Regions from separate parts of the Homo sapiens genome. Here region 2 is linked to region 1. Evidence: fine-mapped QTL for protein levels in blood plasma. A gene starts in region 1. The other region holds a variant in brackets. All regions are shown on one strand. Distances are between the middles of the regions.

Region 1 (5,394 bases):
TTTATGCCCATAATTAAAGAACAACAATGGCGTCAACATCAGTTACCTGTTTAAGTGAATGTGAGTCTGGATTTTTGAAATAAAGTTGATAACAAAAACAACATAACTATTCCATAGTGATTAAGAGAAAGAAAATTTGAAATAATAAATAATACAAGAGAATTCCATGTGCTTAAAAGAGTTTGTTAAAAACAAATTTATTTGTATTATTGTCCACATTATTTTACATAGGAAGGAAGCTCCTAGTGGGCAGGAAAGATCTATCTATAAATTTACTTCACAGTAACTTGAATCTAGTATATATGTAATATTATTTAAATTAAAATTTGCAATATAATATAAATACAATTTATGAGATCTTGAAAACATAACTCTTGAAATGTCAAAAATATTTACATGTACAAAATCTGCACAAAGATGCCAGCATAAAATTCTTTATGGAAGTTGCTTAAAACTGTAATTAAGTGTTAACCATTCATAGAAAATATGCCTTATTAATTTTGTGACACTGACTCTTGTAAACTCCACTTAGTATTGGTGCTTGATGTGAAGTGTTGGGAGTGGGCTCTTATTTAAATATTTAGAATAACTAAATCACACAGAGGCTCTGGGGAGACTGTGACTTTAGGGAGTAATAAATAAGAAAAAGTATTGTCAAATAGCTCATTTTTTTATTTAAATGCTATTGGCTTCATGCCAATAACACTAAGATGGTATACAGGACATTTTCAGGTCAGTTATAAATGTTATACATTGGTTTATTTTCAGATTATATTAAGAGCAATGATAAACCATCTCTTTTCAGTCTAACATATACAGACGATAACAAGATAAAGATGACATTAGGAAACTTCATAAACTATTATATTTGCATTTTAAGGTAGATATACAAGTTCTAGTAATAGTAAAATGGAAGGTAGTATGCCCTCTTTCTGGAGAAAGCTGATATCAGAATTACTCTGATATCCTCTGATATTAGAATTCCCTTTGGGTAGGTAATAAAGCCGATGATTTCTTATAAAATATGTCAAAAATAATAAGTCATGACAGAACAAGAAAATGCAAACCTATAATTCTACTTGAGAATCTGGAAGCTCCCTTTGACAAAGCATTTTTTTCTCTCAAATTACTACAGAGATAACAAACATAACAGAAGCTTCTGAAAAAGCATAAATATAATTTACTAATTAAAGCAAGCATTTATACATCACATATTTAGAAAGTTTATCTTGGAGGAAAAGAAAGCTACTGTGCTTCCTTATAATATTCCAGCAATATCTGTCAATGCATGCAAGATAAGCCATATAAAATACACATATGATTCTGCTTCAAAGGGACATAGGCAGAAAATGATCTCTTTGTAAGCCACAGGTAGGCATTAATGTGTTAGGTTATGGTAAATGTAAACTTAGAGGTAAAAATAGGAATGTAATATCTACTTTATATAAACATTAAATATGTTTTTATTATATGAAATATATCTTAAAATCTGCATGGTAAAAAACAAGATTTTATTTTCAATATAACAAAGTTCTTAGGCTATTTTTTTTTTAAAAAAAAGCCTTCATAATTGAGCTGCCCTAGTACAATTTAAGATACTATTTAAGAGAAGAAACATGGGATAAATCAAATGTAATGTTTATCTGAAGATTTTTAAAAAGAAAGCAAACACTGCTAAACTGAGGATCACTTCCCAGCTTAATTTTCCCCCCCTCCCCATATTGCTACAGATGATTTAAAATGACTGCATCTATTTCTTTGAGAAAACAAACATAATTCATGTCATAAGATACACTTACCTAATCACTCTGGAGGTTAATGGTGGTGGTAGGGGTCACAGCCCAAAATGAACTAAAAGGTCAGGTATGTTTTAAGAAAGCAGTTCCTCTTTAATTACCCAAAGAATACATTTTTTAGGCATGAATTAAAGGCAATCCATTCTCTCTACCTCCCATTTCAAAACACAGTAAAGAAGCAGTCTCCCGCCCTTCCAGAAAGAAACACAGCAGACACATATAAGAAATTTGCTTTGGACCTGTCTTCAGAATTCAAAGCAAGAAGCAAAGCTGGTCCTGTAGAAATCCAGACCCCAGTAGCAGAATCATGTTGAACTTATTTTTAGCATTTTCTTAGATCCTTCTATGAAATTTCCCGGCTGATTACGCCTCCTCCACACATGAGTTCACTTACACAGTGTTTGCTACGGCAGTAGAGGTGATTTGGCTAGGCTCTGAGGATCACAAACAGCAACAGCATGCTGTAGCTTAAAGCCCACTCCGCTGGCAATACCATCACCATCGTCCACAGTGTGTTGCTTGAATCCCCTCTTACACACCGGAAAATACTAACTGTGGATGTGAAGGAAAGGAGCAACTTTAGCTGGGTTTCTGCATCAGTAAGAGCAGTTTGCAGATTGCTGATTTGGAGCTCATTCTGCCGGCAGCCGGGAATTCCTCAGCACCACGGACAGCGCCAACAACTGGCTTCTGAGCCCAGCTCTGTCGAAATCCCAGAGCTGCTTTAGACGAGGCTAGAGTGCTCTCCAAGCAGTCGCACTTTATACAGCGGATGCGCGCATTAGGAGGGGTAAAGACATTCTACGTGCGAGATATTTATTTGCATTGAAATTGCAATTAATTTTTTTTGTATAAAATTGTATACCTAACGCGTTCTTGGATGGGCTGCAGAGATGAAAGTTCCAGAAGAGGCTTGCATTTAGATTTAAGCCATCTGCAGTCCCCAATTATTATTAATAGATAAAGCATAATCATTGTCAAACAATCTGTGAAAACGTATGCTTGTCGATTCTATTTGACCCTTTGGTGGCAGAAAGACTTCCCTGGTGCTGCATGATTAAACTTCAGGTCTTCCTGCAGCTTGGATCTGATTTTTTTTTTTTTTTTTTAAAGTAGCCAGGTTTTCCTGCAGTTTGTTCTCTAACATTAAAAATCAATCTCCTGTAATTCATCTAGTCTGTCATTAGGCGTCATTGTAAAGCTGTTTCTTTCAAAACCCCTAGCAAAGATGCCGTGTCTCTAAATTCTTATCAAAATGAGAGAGAAAAAAGACCCTGACACAAATGGGTGAGCATAAAGTTATTTTTTTATTAGTAACAGTATGAGCACTAAAATATATGTCCAAAGCATGTTTTAAAGCAGACTGTAAATGTTACCTGCTGGCACATTTAACCAGTTCTTTGCTGGTTTGGGACTACAGGAGGCATTTTCAAGCCTTAAAGGGAATGCCCTCTGCAGCGGGATGTGCTGACGGTCAAGACCACGTTCGAACTGTGCCGTCAGAGCCTCCAGAAAAGAGAATCTCCCCGTCGTGAGAAAACACAACCGTGTGTGCCTCGTTTTCGTGGCCCATCAATTTGTGAATCTCCCCAGATTTAAGATCTAGCAAATGGATAACACCATTGCCACTTGCCTGAGCTAAAACTCGACCTGAGGGAGACAGAGAGGAGAGAGAGAGAGAATGAATCAAAGTTTTATTTCAAGTGTTCACAGTTTATAAGCAATGAAGCATTCTATTTTTTTCAATTATCATTCTGTGTTAGGGGTCAGTTATTAAATATGCAGTAGCTCCTGTAGGTATAAGAAATAAGTTGAGTCAAAATTAAGACACATCAATAATTAGGTTATAAAATTTTCTAATTGGGACATAGAGCCTAATGGTCTACCTCCTTTATATGCAGATTTCATCAAACATCCTACTATTCTTTTATATTTGTGATTAATAAAGCATTTCGAGGAGATGAGATTGAAAGCAACTATGCAAGGCAACTTTCTTTTTCAAATAAATTATATGTTAGAAAGTTTTAAAAGGCATAGCTTTCAAAATTTATGGAAAACATTTGTATTCTTCTTTAAACTTATTTATAATAATTATGCTAATCATTACTTACAACTCAATATACATTCCTGCTTTAAAAATTGTGATACTCATGAACTCAACAAATTTTTTTGAAGCTGAAGTGGAAATAAATACTTCCATTTCAAAATGACTTGAGAGTTTTTACTCTAGCTTAGAATTCAAATTTTGATAAATTAAATTTTTTTTACATAAGATGGCTAAATACAGCACAGGGTATTTGCATAATTTTTGTATCATATATTTTTTAGTGGCTCATTTCCTCAAAGTGAAAACAAATCAGGGATCCAATTTTAATTAATATTTTTATTAAGGAAGTCCAGTAACAAACTATCATGGGACTTGGAGTTAAGTAAAACAATAGGATATGTTTACATAAGCTCAGTACTTAGTGTAAATAAGTATGACATTAGTACTATCCATGGGATTATTTAATCATACTTAGAAGGCATATTATTGTTTCAGTAATAACATTTAAAATTTATTAAACTCTTTTAATGTGATAGATACTATATTTAGTGCTTGATATGGATAATTCCGTATGATCCTTATATTTAGTGCTTGATATGGATAATTCTGAATGATCGTTACAGTAATCTAATGATAAAGAAAATAGCATTAACTATTTAATATTTTAAATAGTTAGTACTAATAGTAGTAACTAATATTTTAAATAGTACTAACAGTATTAACTATTTAATATATTAGTTAGTATTAATAGTATTAACTATTTAATATTTTAAATAGTACTATTTATCTGTATTTTAAATAGTTAGTACTATTTAAAAATGCTTAAATATCTGTTATGTAAAAAATGCCTCCTCTATGTAGGTGAAGAAATAGAGGCTTGGAAAGGCGAAGTAACTTGCTCATAATGACACCCTAGGTATAGAAGGAGCTAGCATTTAATCACAGCACTTCGAATCCAGAGCCTGGGCTTTTAGCCATTGCTTTCCACAGCCAGCATAGCATTGTTATCAATGATGCCTTCTTGACAGATTTTAGGTAAGTGATATATTGTGAAAATAGCATTGGTCCATTTTATAATAAGAATTCTAGAATTATATCACCATAAAAGCTATAGTGAAATATTTAATCACAAATTTTACCCCCAAACATCATGAATACCTCTAAAACAGAGAAAAGTTATAAAAGTAAAGCTAACCATGATAAATACAACCTATTTGCAAACCTTTATAACTACTGGGCTTCTTCATCTAGAACAAAACCTGACACAGCAAAGATCCTTAGGATGGATTAGAGTGTCCAAAGCAGCAGATGTGAATATTTATTATAAACCATTTTCTACTAAGTCTTTGCTGACAGAGGCATTACATATGGATTTCACTTCCAACCTCACTCTATAGGCAATTGCTGTTTGTGACTTTCCCAAATAACTTTTTTTCTTGTAGTCTTTATACAACAGCTGAAAAGTGGGGTAAACACTGATTTCTATTTGTGAAACCAAACAAAACGAAACAGAACCAAGTCCATAAAGAAAAAGAAAAATATTTAGCTTTA
Region 2 (5,394 bases), 13 kb after region 1:
TCTTTTTCTGTCTTTAACATGAAATCCATGTCTTTCTTAGGAAGGCAGTTCTTTGATTCTCCAGAAATTCCTAAACTATAGCATGTGAATATATCAAAAAAATTAAGTCTACCTTGCTAGGAACAGAACTTTTGGCCTGTGTGGAGTTTTAAAAATATTTCCCCCCTATTAGGAGAGCATGAATGATGATCTTGAACCAGGTGCTTTCCTACATGGGCTACCTTCTGAATATTACAGAAATCCCTTGTGAAATGCACCTAAAGTCCTAAAAATGTTCTAATTAATTATTGAATCTATTTAAAATATCAACAGCCACCTGCTTTCATTAAGAAATCCTTGTAGACCTATTTCCTAACTTGGTCTTCACCTATGCAGCTGATCAGTGTTGGGATAATATTTATTCAGGAACCCCATATATCTGGAGCTTTGCAAACATTTCAGAAAAGCTTTTGCTGATAACAGAGGAAATGCAAGTTCCAGTTCAGTTCTGAGGATTCGATAAGCCATCACAAAACATAATTCATAGCAAATCATAGACTATGATATATTCTTCTTTGTTGTTTAGAAATAGGCAAAGGAACCAAGGGCTTATATTTAATATCAAAAATTTAATTAAGAAATTAATCATTTTTGTCTTATTGTAAAGTAATAAAACCACCCTTAGTATTGCTCAGATTTTACTACTGAAACCATAACTACATTTTAAGACTCTAAAAGTCAGAGTTATAATATTTTGGGAGTTGTTCTCTTAATGTACATTGGTGTCAGAACTAACTTCATTATAAAGGAATCCTCTTTCTTGAATGTGGAGGTTTGTCTGTGGGGAAAGCCACTGTCAGATTCTGTTAGTTAATGTTCAGGTGGTGAATTGTTAATAATTACATCCTAATTTTAGAACTTCATCCTTTCCTACTTCAGGGCAACATTGTTAGGTAAAAGAGGCTAAGTGATAAATCAGCATCACTACACCATTAATAGTTATAGTAAAAAAAAGATATGCAAATATGTGATAAAAGAATTATAATTGAGATGGATACCCTCCTCACAAGAGCAAAAGAATGGCTGCAATATCAAATGCGAAGGTCTTGTATGAACTGGGAATGGCTAAATTAATTAGTTTAAATGTAGTATGTAGTATAATCGGATGATTAAAAAATATTAAACTCTCTGAAATCATAGATTAGCTCTGAATTTTATATATGTCACTATATATTACCTGAGTAAGCCCCACAGGCATAATACCTAATGGAGGTTTCCTTTTAAATAATTTGAAGTGCTTGATAATAAAAGATAGAACCACTAGCTTACAATTATTATCTCACTTTTTCCCAAATATTTCACATCTGTTTATTATGGAATCCTTACAATCAAATGCAAAGGCAACATTATTATTTTCATTTTACAGAGAAAGATATTGAATCATAGAGACATGAAAGACCTCCATTAAGATAACAGAGTTAGGATTTGAACAAGGATGCCAACCAAGTATGTCTATAAAATTTCCTCTATCCTGCAGCCTGAGGGGAAACAAAAGTAGTTATGCCAGAAAGTTAAGCTAATTTGGCTGCTACATGAACTGCTAAATAAATTTATATTAACTAATAATTCTGTGAAGGCATCTTTATGGAAATTTCAGCTAACATTCTATAATATTACATTCCGATGACCTGGCTTTATATCTCATAGAAAATTTAAAGCAACATGTGATTAGTTTGTTCTTTATTCAGCCTCTCTCCATCATACTTTCTCACTGTTAACCTCTTCATCTGCTAGCCCACTTGGATCAAATGGGCTTTTGCTGAAAGCTAGTAGACAATTTGAGATCAAGGGCACTGATGAGTACTTGGAGTTAAAGTAATGAGGCACGCATGATTTAGCTATATACAGGAGGCATAAAAATGGCAAAGTTGGAAGTACAATTATTAGAAAATATGGAGTGTGACTTGTCTGAATAAATGGAATATTAGGGTATTTTCAGTTGCAAGTGAAGGAAAGTCAACTCAATGTGGCAAAGGGAAAAATTTTTTTAAAGTTTAACAAATATATTTATCACACAGAAATTCAAATAAACTGACTCCAATAATGGCTGGATCAAGAGGTTGGAATGATGTTATTAGGATGCCTTCTTTCATTGTCTCTATATTCTGATTCCAGCAGTGTAAATCCATACTGAGGCAGACTCTGTCCACTTGGTAGTCTGGGTTCAGGCTCATGGCCTACCAAATTCAAATTCCATGGAAAGAGTACCTCTATTGCCTAGCAGTCTCATAAGGGGTAAAAATTTTCCCTTATTGGTTAGCTTGGATCATGTGGCTGGCAGGCGGAAGGGTGTGATTTACTAATTCACCAGGCCAGGATTAAGTGCTGACCAGAACAAGTGAGAGTGCATACGGAGAACTACCCAAATGAAGAACAAGATGCTGTCATTTTAGGAGGAATGACACTAGGCATTTAAAAAAATTCTACTTCAGATAGTCATTCCAGATGTGCAATTCAGAGCCAATTTTTGCATTAGAGAAGAAAACAAAGAAATAATAAGCCACATTGTAGGCCTTGAAAACTGTGCTTTACCTTCTATTGTCTTTAATTTGACTATCTATCTATCCTCTTGCCTCCTAAAAGACTCTTATGCAAATAAATTGCATCTAGTTTTATCAATAAATCAGCTCAAGTATTTTGTTAAATAGACTGCCAATGTTTGGGGTCCCTTGATCTACAGTGAGGCTATTAAATGCAAAAACTCCCAAGGATAAACTGCAGGGAAGGTAGGGGTAAAGTGGGAATTATAGTTGCGAAGGAATAGAAAAATTTGAACACCTATAAGACAAGCAATCTGCATTAGAAAATTTAAAAATATGGCCGGGCGCGGGGGCTCACGCCTGTAATCCCAGCACTTTGGGAGGCCGAGGCGGGCAGATCACGAGGTCCGGAGATTGAGACCATCCTGGCCAACGTGGCAAAACCCCGTCTCTACTAAAAATACAAAAATTAGCTGGGCATGGTGGCGCATGCCTGTATGTAGTCCCAGCTACTTGGGAGGCTGAGGCAGGAGAATCGCTTGAATCCAGGAGGCGGAGGTTGCAGTGAGCCGAGATTGCACCACTGCATTCCAGCCTGGCGACAGAGCGAGACTCCATCTCAAAAAAAAAAAAAAAAGAAAATTAAAAAATTTATATAAATTCAAGCTTTTTTGCATTAACTAGATACTATGATTATTAATATCTCAGTGGCATTCATACACTAGAGTATCTTGCCAAAATCAACAATTACAGCAAG[C/T]TGCACTGGATTTTATTATATTAAACAGAATAAAATTTTTATAAACTCTAAAATTAGAAACATACAGTATAGTTTTTATACTTTCCTAGTAAATCCCAGTATTTTTAGGAAAAAAGCTAAAGAAAAGTGCTTTTTTTAAGGGCTATTTATCAAAGATGATACATTTTATGTTTCAGTGGCAACTTTGCACATGTTCAAAAGATCTTGATGTAGATCTATAAAAAGTTCTGAATACTAAATATTTCAGTTATTTCTAAAGAAATCATTTTTAAAATAATATATAAGAACATAAACAACCAAATAGATAAAAATTATTTTGTGGAATCATTTTGAGAAACCATACTATTTTGCTGTTGTCAATATTTAAATTTAAAAATATATTCTTTGGGAATTCAGAATCTTAAGAACAAAACACATGAACATGTAAGAAGAAGGGATCAATGAAACAAAACTGTCAAAATATTAACAGTTGTCAAACCTGGGTAGTGGACAAATGGGGCTTATTAGATTATTTTCTTCACTTTTATGTATGCTTGGAAAATAAAAACAATAAAACATTAAAAAATATTAATTACAGATCACCATTATTACCATGTAGTCATTTCTTATACATAGAACTCAAAATTTTGAATTATCAGAGAAGCACAAAGTATTCTAAAACTAGGTATATATACAATGTGTCTAAGTACTTTTAGCAACTGCAGAGCAAAATAGTGAGTGATAAATGAAGATACTAAATATAATCATTAAAAAAACAAACTGGAGGACTTTATTAAAATAAACAACAAAAAGCCAAGCCACAGCCTGGTACAAAATATTTGCAAAAGACATACCTCATAAAGGACTATTATCCAAATTATACAAAGAACTCTTAAAACTCAAGAATAAGAAAACAACCTAATTCAAAAATGGGCCAACATTGTGGAAAGCAGTGTGATGAGTCGCAGAAGAACTTGAAGCAGAATTACTATTCAACCCAGCAATCCCATTATTGGGTATATACCCAAAAGAATATTCATCACTCTACCATAAAGACACATGCACACGTGTGTTCATTGCAGCACTATTCACAATAGCAAAGACACAGAATCAACATAAATCCCATCAACTGAAGACTGGTTAAAGAAAAATTGGTACATATATACCATGGAATACTATGCAGCCATAACAAAGAATGAGATTATGTCTTTGCAGCAACATGGATGGAGCTGGAGGCCATTATCTTAAGCAAACTAACACAGGAACAGAAAACCAAATACTGCATGTTCTCACTTATAAGTGAGAGCTAAATGATAAGAACACAAGGACACAAAAAGGAAAAAAAAATAGACACCAGGGCCTACTTGAGGGTGGAGGGTGGGAGGAGGAAGAGGATCAGAAAAAAATACCTATCGGGTACTATGCTTATTACCTGGGTGATGAACTATTTTGTACACCAAACCCCTGTCACATGCAGTTTACCTATATCACAAATCTGCACATTGAAACTAAAATAAAACTTACCATAAAAATATTTAAAAATGGGTCAAATACCTTAAACAACCTTACCAAAGAAGATAGACAGATGGTGAATAAGCATATGAAAAGAGGCTTAACATCATATGTCATCAGGGAAATGCAAATTAAAACAGCAGTAAGGTACCACATACACCAGAACATTGATAACACCAAATGCTGGTGAGAATGTGGAGCAATAGGAACATTCATTCCTTGCTGGTGAGGATGCAAAATGTTACAGCTACTTTGGAAGATGGTTTAGCAGTTTACTTACAAAAGTAAACATACTCTTGCCAATTATTTCACAATAGTGTTCCTTTGTATTTACCCAAAGAGGTGGAAACTTATGTCCACATAAAAACTTGTACAAGAATGTTTATAGAAGCTTCATTCATAATTGCCAAAAGTTGAAAGCAACCAAGATGTCCTTCAGTAAGTGAATTAATAAAGCGTGGTACATCCAGACAATGGAATATTCTTCAGTGATAAAAAGAAATGAGCTAACAAGCCATGAAAAGGCATGGAGGAAACATAAATGCATACTACTAAGTGAAAGAAGCCAATCGGCCAACGCTACATACTGTCTGATTTTTATTATGTGACATGTTGGATAAGGCAAAA

Alleles and levels. Alleles are on the strand shown, and positions count from the first base shown. The strength of an association depends on the size of the effect and on how common the allele is.
With allele T in place of C in region 2, the plasma level of the protein whose gene starts at base 2,532 in region 1 is higher (weak association).

What was found. A credible set is the group of variants that fine-mapping cannot tell apart. PIP is the posterior inclusion probability: the model's chance that the variant is causal. The UK Biobank Pharma Proteomics Project read protein levels with antibody pairs (Olink). The fine-mapping took linkage between variants from a reference panel, not from the people measured, so its PIPs are less certain.
Region 2: its variant is the best candidate, but not a certain one, in a credible set for the plasma level of the VWC2L protein (UK Biobank, PIP 0.68).

What each region holds. Positions count from the first base shown.
Region 1 is chr2:214,408,192-214,413,585 of GRCh38, reverse strand. VWC2L (von Willebrand factor C domain containing 2 like) reads right to left here and starts at 2,532. Exons shown (of 4, transcript NM_001080500.4): 1 at 1,800-2,532. It overlaps SPAG16 (sperm associated antigen 16), which reads right to left. Exons shown (of 16, transcript NM_024532.5): 16 at 3,085-3,446. The coding sequence ends at 3,271.
Region 2 is chr2:214,394,921-214,400,314 of GRCh38, reverse strand. The region is part of intron 15 of SPAG16 (sperm associated antigen 16); the gene reads right to left. Among named protein-coding and RNA genes, the nearest start is that of VWC2L, 13 kb to the left of the region's middle. The variant C/T (reference allele first, on the strand shown) is at 3,277.